2 separate regions of the Homo sapiens genome follow, and region 2 is linked to region 1. A link means that fine-mapping ties the variant in region 1 to the expression of a gene that starts in the linked region. Tissue or cell type: whole blood. Region 1 holds a variant in brackets; the other region holds the start of a gene. All regions are shown on one strand. Distances are from middle to middle.

Region 1 (2,687 bases):
ATATAGAAATGGGAATATCTGTCAGTGGGAGATACAAAATAAGATTCCTTTTGTTAAAAACCAAAAAAACCTTCTTAAAAACACAAACCTATAAAGGATGATATTCACTATCAAAAAGAAAGAAACGATTCTTTTGAAATAAGATCTTCTATATTTTTCCACTAGTTATTTTTTTTTTTTGTAAAATATACTAAGATAAAGCCACATGCAGACTAACTTTGTCATAAGAATGAAATGTGAAATTATAGAGGGTGGCTTTCAGATGTTTCCCAAAGCAACAGTTGTAAATTGAGGATCGAAGGCTCTGTGTTTTGAGGAGGTGGTAATAGAAAAAGAAGGGTTTTCAGACTTGACAATTTCTATTTTATTTTAGATAGTAGCACATTTCTTCACATATCACTAAAAGCATGAGAAAGTTTAAATATTTGGCATGTTTATATCAAACATAAAATATTAAAGGCTAAAACTGGATTCTTGATTTTCATATAATGTGCTTTTGGGAATCTGTTCATATATCATGCATAAGTGGCTTTGGAATATTTAGATGTTATGTTTGCTAGGGCAAAATCTAATATTCTTATTTGGTGGTGGCCCACGATAAACATATTGAGACATCTATCGTTCTAAACTTGAAAGGCTGATCTTCTGTATAATATAGGTAATTTGTTCGATAAAAATTCATTTAATAAAATCCCAAATATGTGGAAACTACAAATTAAGTAATATCCACTGGCTGGGAAACTCATGCATCCATTTCATAGTTGGTTTCTTCATATCATTTATGTCAGGGCTGACCTTCAGAATATGGTCAAAATTTTGCTGGCTTTACCATGTCACTCCAGCACACCATTTTTGCCTTGATATTTCAAAACTTTTGTTTAAAGCATTTGTATTTAATTTTTTTGTAATTGAAGTTTTAAACATATATAAAAGTTCTACTTTATGCATACTTTTTTCCATTATCTTTTTCCTTTGTTGTAGAAGTTCAAAACAAATCTCTCACGTCGGATCATTTCAACTCTAAATACTTCCATTTGTATCTCTATAAAATAAGGACTTCATAAAACCATAATTATTCCATAATGCCATATAGTGTGTTCAAATTCAAATTTTTCAGATGTCTTGGAAATGTGTTTCTTCAGTTGGCTTGTACTCGTCAAGCTGAAATAAGGTTTCCTGATTGCATTTGAGTACAACTGATTTAAGTCCCTCAATTTA[G/C]AAAGGGGCACCCATTCCTTCATTTTCATGTTTTTGATGAACTGAGGAAACTGCAGCAATACACTTTTAAGTTGTTCCACATCCTGAATTTATCTGATGGTTTTCTCATGTCATTTACTTATTCCTCTAAATACACTATTTCTTTAAGCAGAAGGTTATAGCTAAAAGCTTTCAGGTCAAGCCTTTGTGGGTAGCATACTTTATGAATGGTGCCATGTACATCACACCTTTCACATTACAACTTTCAGGGTTGCTAAGATCTATCAGGCAATGCAGGTAGTGGCAGCCTAATCCTCTGTCAAGTTTACCACCAATCTGTCTCCTAATGCGATGGTTCTCAGCCTTGGTTGTACAATGCAATCACCTGGGTTGAAAATTGGGTGGAATTTTAACACTATTGCTGTCCAAGTCCCACACTCAGAGATTCCAATTCAATCAGTCTAAGCTGTATTCTGAATAATGGAACTTTAAAAAACTCCCAGGGTGATTCTACTGTGCAGCTAGGGTTGGGAACTTAAGAGGTTTTAGCATCCACTGACAATCTTTGCTTGAATTATTTCATTAGGGCTTGCAAACTAGTGATTTTTCTAATTTTGTTATTCTTTCTACATTTATCAGCAGGAATTCTTTTGGAATATTTTACATAATAGCTAGGATTATTTACTTATCCTGAAATATGAACAGGACAGGCAGGATAAATTTTTAATTCTTCTCTTTAATGACTAGGTTTTAGAATAAAGCAGTGGTTCTCAAACTGTGCACACTGGAGTCACCTGGGGACTCGTTAAACCCCACTGACGCCTGGTTCCCAACTCAGACTTTCGAACTAAATTGTGTGGGGGTGATGCCTGGGCGTCAAGATTTTAGTAGCTCTGCAGGTGACTCTGAAGTATAGCAGTGTGTAGGAACCTCTGGAGTGAGATGTTGGCACCCACAATTATATCCAGTGGTGATTTTTTAAGTTTGTTTTTTGCTTGATTTGGTAGTGGTTGTTGCATTTTTCATGATAGAAAAATGTATCTGATCATTTTGAGCCAGCTATGAAGACAGAAGAAAGCCAAACTGACAGGAAACAGTATGATACTTTTACTATATTCTAAGGTCATGCTGATCTCCAATCTCCATGAGAACGAGTTAATTAGCATGATGGTCCGGGGTATGCTCAAGTTTCCATGGAGTGTTATGATTTAATGAATAGTTAATAATGATATTTAAAAATTATCTTACTTTGTTCAATCTGTTCCTGTTTTATGATATAGAGAAATTTGAAACAAATGTTTTTGTTAAAGCCTAGTAACTTATTAAAATTTTAAATAATCATGAAGATTTACATTCCTGTACTCTGGTAACATAGTAAGTGTAGATAGGACTACCAGGTGCTATCAGTAGGAGCATAAATTGTTAAGCTTTCTGGTGGGCAAACTGACAATATTTGTCAAAATTAAAATGTATACACCCTTGTCCAGGAA
Region 2 (2,687 bases), 160 kb after region 1:
GCCAGCCCAGGAGCCGGCAGCGCGCGTCCCCCGCTGTACACACACACCTGACTACCGCTGCGCCCCGAGCGGCCACGGCCGCCGCGGCACCTCCACTGCCCGCGCTCGCGGTGTGTCGCACTCAGCCAACACGCAGCCAAATCCCGGCCCCGCCGCTCGCTCTCCGGGTAGCGGTCCAGGGGAGAGGGCCGGCAGCCTCGGCAGCGGGCGGGGATACCAGATCCGCCAGGGAGGTGCCGCAGCTCCGCTTCAACTCCTGGCAGGGAGAGGAGGAAGCGGCGGCGCAGGAGGGCAGCGGCGAGGCTCGGCGCTGGGGAGCCGGGAGGGGTGGAGCGTGAGGATCCGCGGCCGGTAGAGAGGGGCGCACTAGGCAGAGGGGTGGGCAGGACCGGCAAGGAGTACAGGACTTCGGGGACAAACGCAAGACCGCGCGGGCAGCAGGGGCGTGGGAAGACGGGGAGGGGACCAAGGTGCAGGATCTGGGGCTAGAAGGACAGACAGCCGGCCCCGAGTGCTGAGGAGGGCGGGCGCCCAGTGGTGTCGAGGGCGACTTGGGGCGCGCGGCGGCAGGCAGCGGGGAAGCCGCCGCGAGGGCGTCCAGCAGGGCTCAGCGCGGCGCTCAAGTTCGGGGCTGGGAGCTCTGAATCCGAACAGCCCAGCGTGGGCAGAGGTCGTGCGCTGCGCGTACGGGAGACCGGGGAGAGGAATCGCCGGGAAAAGCAAATGGAGGGTGAAACTTGTGCGCCTGCCGGGGGGAGGGGAGCAGCAGGCGAGTGCGGGCAGGAACACGAGGCGGGGCAGGAAAGCCGCGGCGGCCGCGAGGCGCTGGGGACGCGGCAGCGGGAGGGAGGCCCCCGGCCCCCGGCGCGCAGGTCCTGGCCCTGGCGCGTGTTCGGGGCGAGGGCCGAGGGTCTCGTGGGCAGGAGTCTCCGCGCCCTCCCGCGAGCCCACACACTTACTTTCCAGCTTAGGCAGCGGCCGTCGTCGCTCCAGGGATCAGGGACATCGGCGCCGAGGGGTCGCCGCTGCGGCACCCGAAAAAATTAAAAAAGTGCCGCGGCGGCGCGGCTGCCCGCCCCTCCCTCCCCCACCGGCCCCCGCCCCCGGAGCGGCTCTCCCACCACCCCCGGCGGCGGCGGTGGCCAACTTGCCCCTCTACCCCTTGCCCATGGTGCCGCCTCCGCGGCCGGCGTCGACGCGGACTCAGCCCCGGAGCCCCCTCTACTGCCCAGAGGCCGCCGCCGCCGCCCGCCCCGCTGCCAGCCCTCCCGCCCGGCCAGCCCCGGGCTCCCGGGAACGTCAGCACGCCGCCGTCCCCGGGCCAGCTCCCGCCACCCCATTGGCGGGAAGGAGAGGGCTGGCCCTCCCCATTGGCCCGGCCCTCATATTGAACAGGCCAATGGGAGCTGCGGTTTCAGGTCGCCATAGAGACCGATGCTGTTCAGCGCGAGAGGGCCTGGAGAGGGTGGGTGTGAGAGAGAAGGTGTCTCAGGTCTCGGGCGCGGGAGGGGGTGGCGGAGAGGACAGGGAGATTCCCCAGCGCTGGCTCTGAAATCTGGGGCAGGCTTTCCTTGCCTTACTGCCAATCCCAACTGTGCCTGGTAGGGTTTGTCCCTGGCGTCAAAGGTAGGAACAGCTGAGCCCTTAGATGTACCCCTGACGGCGAGAGCCCAGGAGTGGGCGTTTCACTTTTCCTGCGTTTGGGGAGTCCCTGAGGCTATGCCCTTTGACCTTTGACATGTGTGCAGCTTCTGCTTCTCCAGGTGAGTTTGCACCCCATCCCTTCCATCGCTGCTTCCTCCTGACGTCACTGAGCCACCTAAATCCTACTTATGTTTGTTCTCTGCAGCCACTCCCCCTTCCCTGGGGTGGATCTTTCCTCAACGTTTTGGGTCCTCAAACTCATAACTCTTCTGAAAGACTCAAAGAGGATTTCCTTTGAGGATATTTTGGTAAGGGAACGAGGTGGCGGATTGTATGATAGATGCCAAAGCGTCAACACATGAGCTAGCCTGTTCCCTGATTCTCAAAGCAAACCTCTAATCTCCCTGTGGGCAGATATTTATTAAACACATCTGTGTGTACATCCCGCACTATGAGCTTGACAGGTGCATGTTCTTTCACTTGAGAGGTTACAGGCTTGTTAAAGATAGAGGAAACAGAAACAATCCTTCACACCTTGTGATGATTTCACAAAAGAGTAAGGGAAATGGATTACAGTTGATGGATTTTGTTTTCTATTTTCCAGTATCTCTTTAAATTTGATATGGAAATAACCTGAGGCATGAAATCAGTACACGCAAAAATCTTGAGCTTTAATAATGTCTTCTACTTTCATTTAAAATCATTTTGTGGTGGTTTATCAATACTAATTGTTTTTTGTCAATAAATTTTATGTTTAGATATCACCTTCTTAAAGTGAGATTTCATGAACATATTAGGCTTTAAAAGATGATATTGCTCTAGCCTATAGCCACTGATATTCTTACATTCTTTTGGCGATTTTACTTTTTTTAGACTAATCTCTTTAGTAAGGAGACTATGTTACTACCCCTCAAATTGGAGGGACCATATTGTGTGAAAAAGCTGATAGGATTTTGGAAATTACAAATATTTTGTTGGGAGAAACAGGTTAATGTGTGTGCAAGCTGCATATGTCTAAGTATTGTTCTGAATTTTAAGTTGGG

The links. PIP is the estimated chance that this variant, and not a neighbour inherited with it, causes the effect.
Region 2: it holds the start of PKP4, and the variant in region 1 is fine-mapped to the expression of PKP4 in whole blood (TOPMed, PIP 0.96).

The regions. Positions count from the first base shown.
Region 1 is chr2:158,612,505-158,615,191 of GRCh38, reverse strand. The region is part of intron 4 of PKP4 (plakophilin 4); the gene reads right to left. Among named protein-coding and RNA genes, the nearest start is that of PKP4-AS1, 120 kb to the left of the region's middle. The variant G/C (reference allele first, on the strand shown) is at 1,219.
Region 2 is chr2:158,455,491-158,458,177 of GRCh38, reverse strand. It overlaps PKP4 (plakophilin 4), which reads right to left and starts at 1,226. Exons shown (of 22, transcript NM_003628.6): 1 at 960-1,226. CCDC148 (coiled-coil domain containing 148) reads left to right here and starts at 1,425. Exons shown (of 14, transcript NM_138803.4): 1 at 1,425-1,763. The coding sequence starts at 1,739. It overlaps LOC124907900, which reads left to right and starts at 44. Exons shown (of 1, transcript XM_047446754.1): 1 at 44-1,047. The coding sequence starts at 724. The coding sequence ends at 1,047. RefSeq lists silencers at 227-446, 477-536, 557-606, 857-906, 1,127-1,496 and 1 more.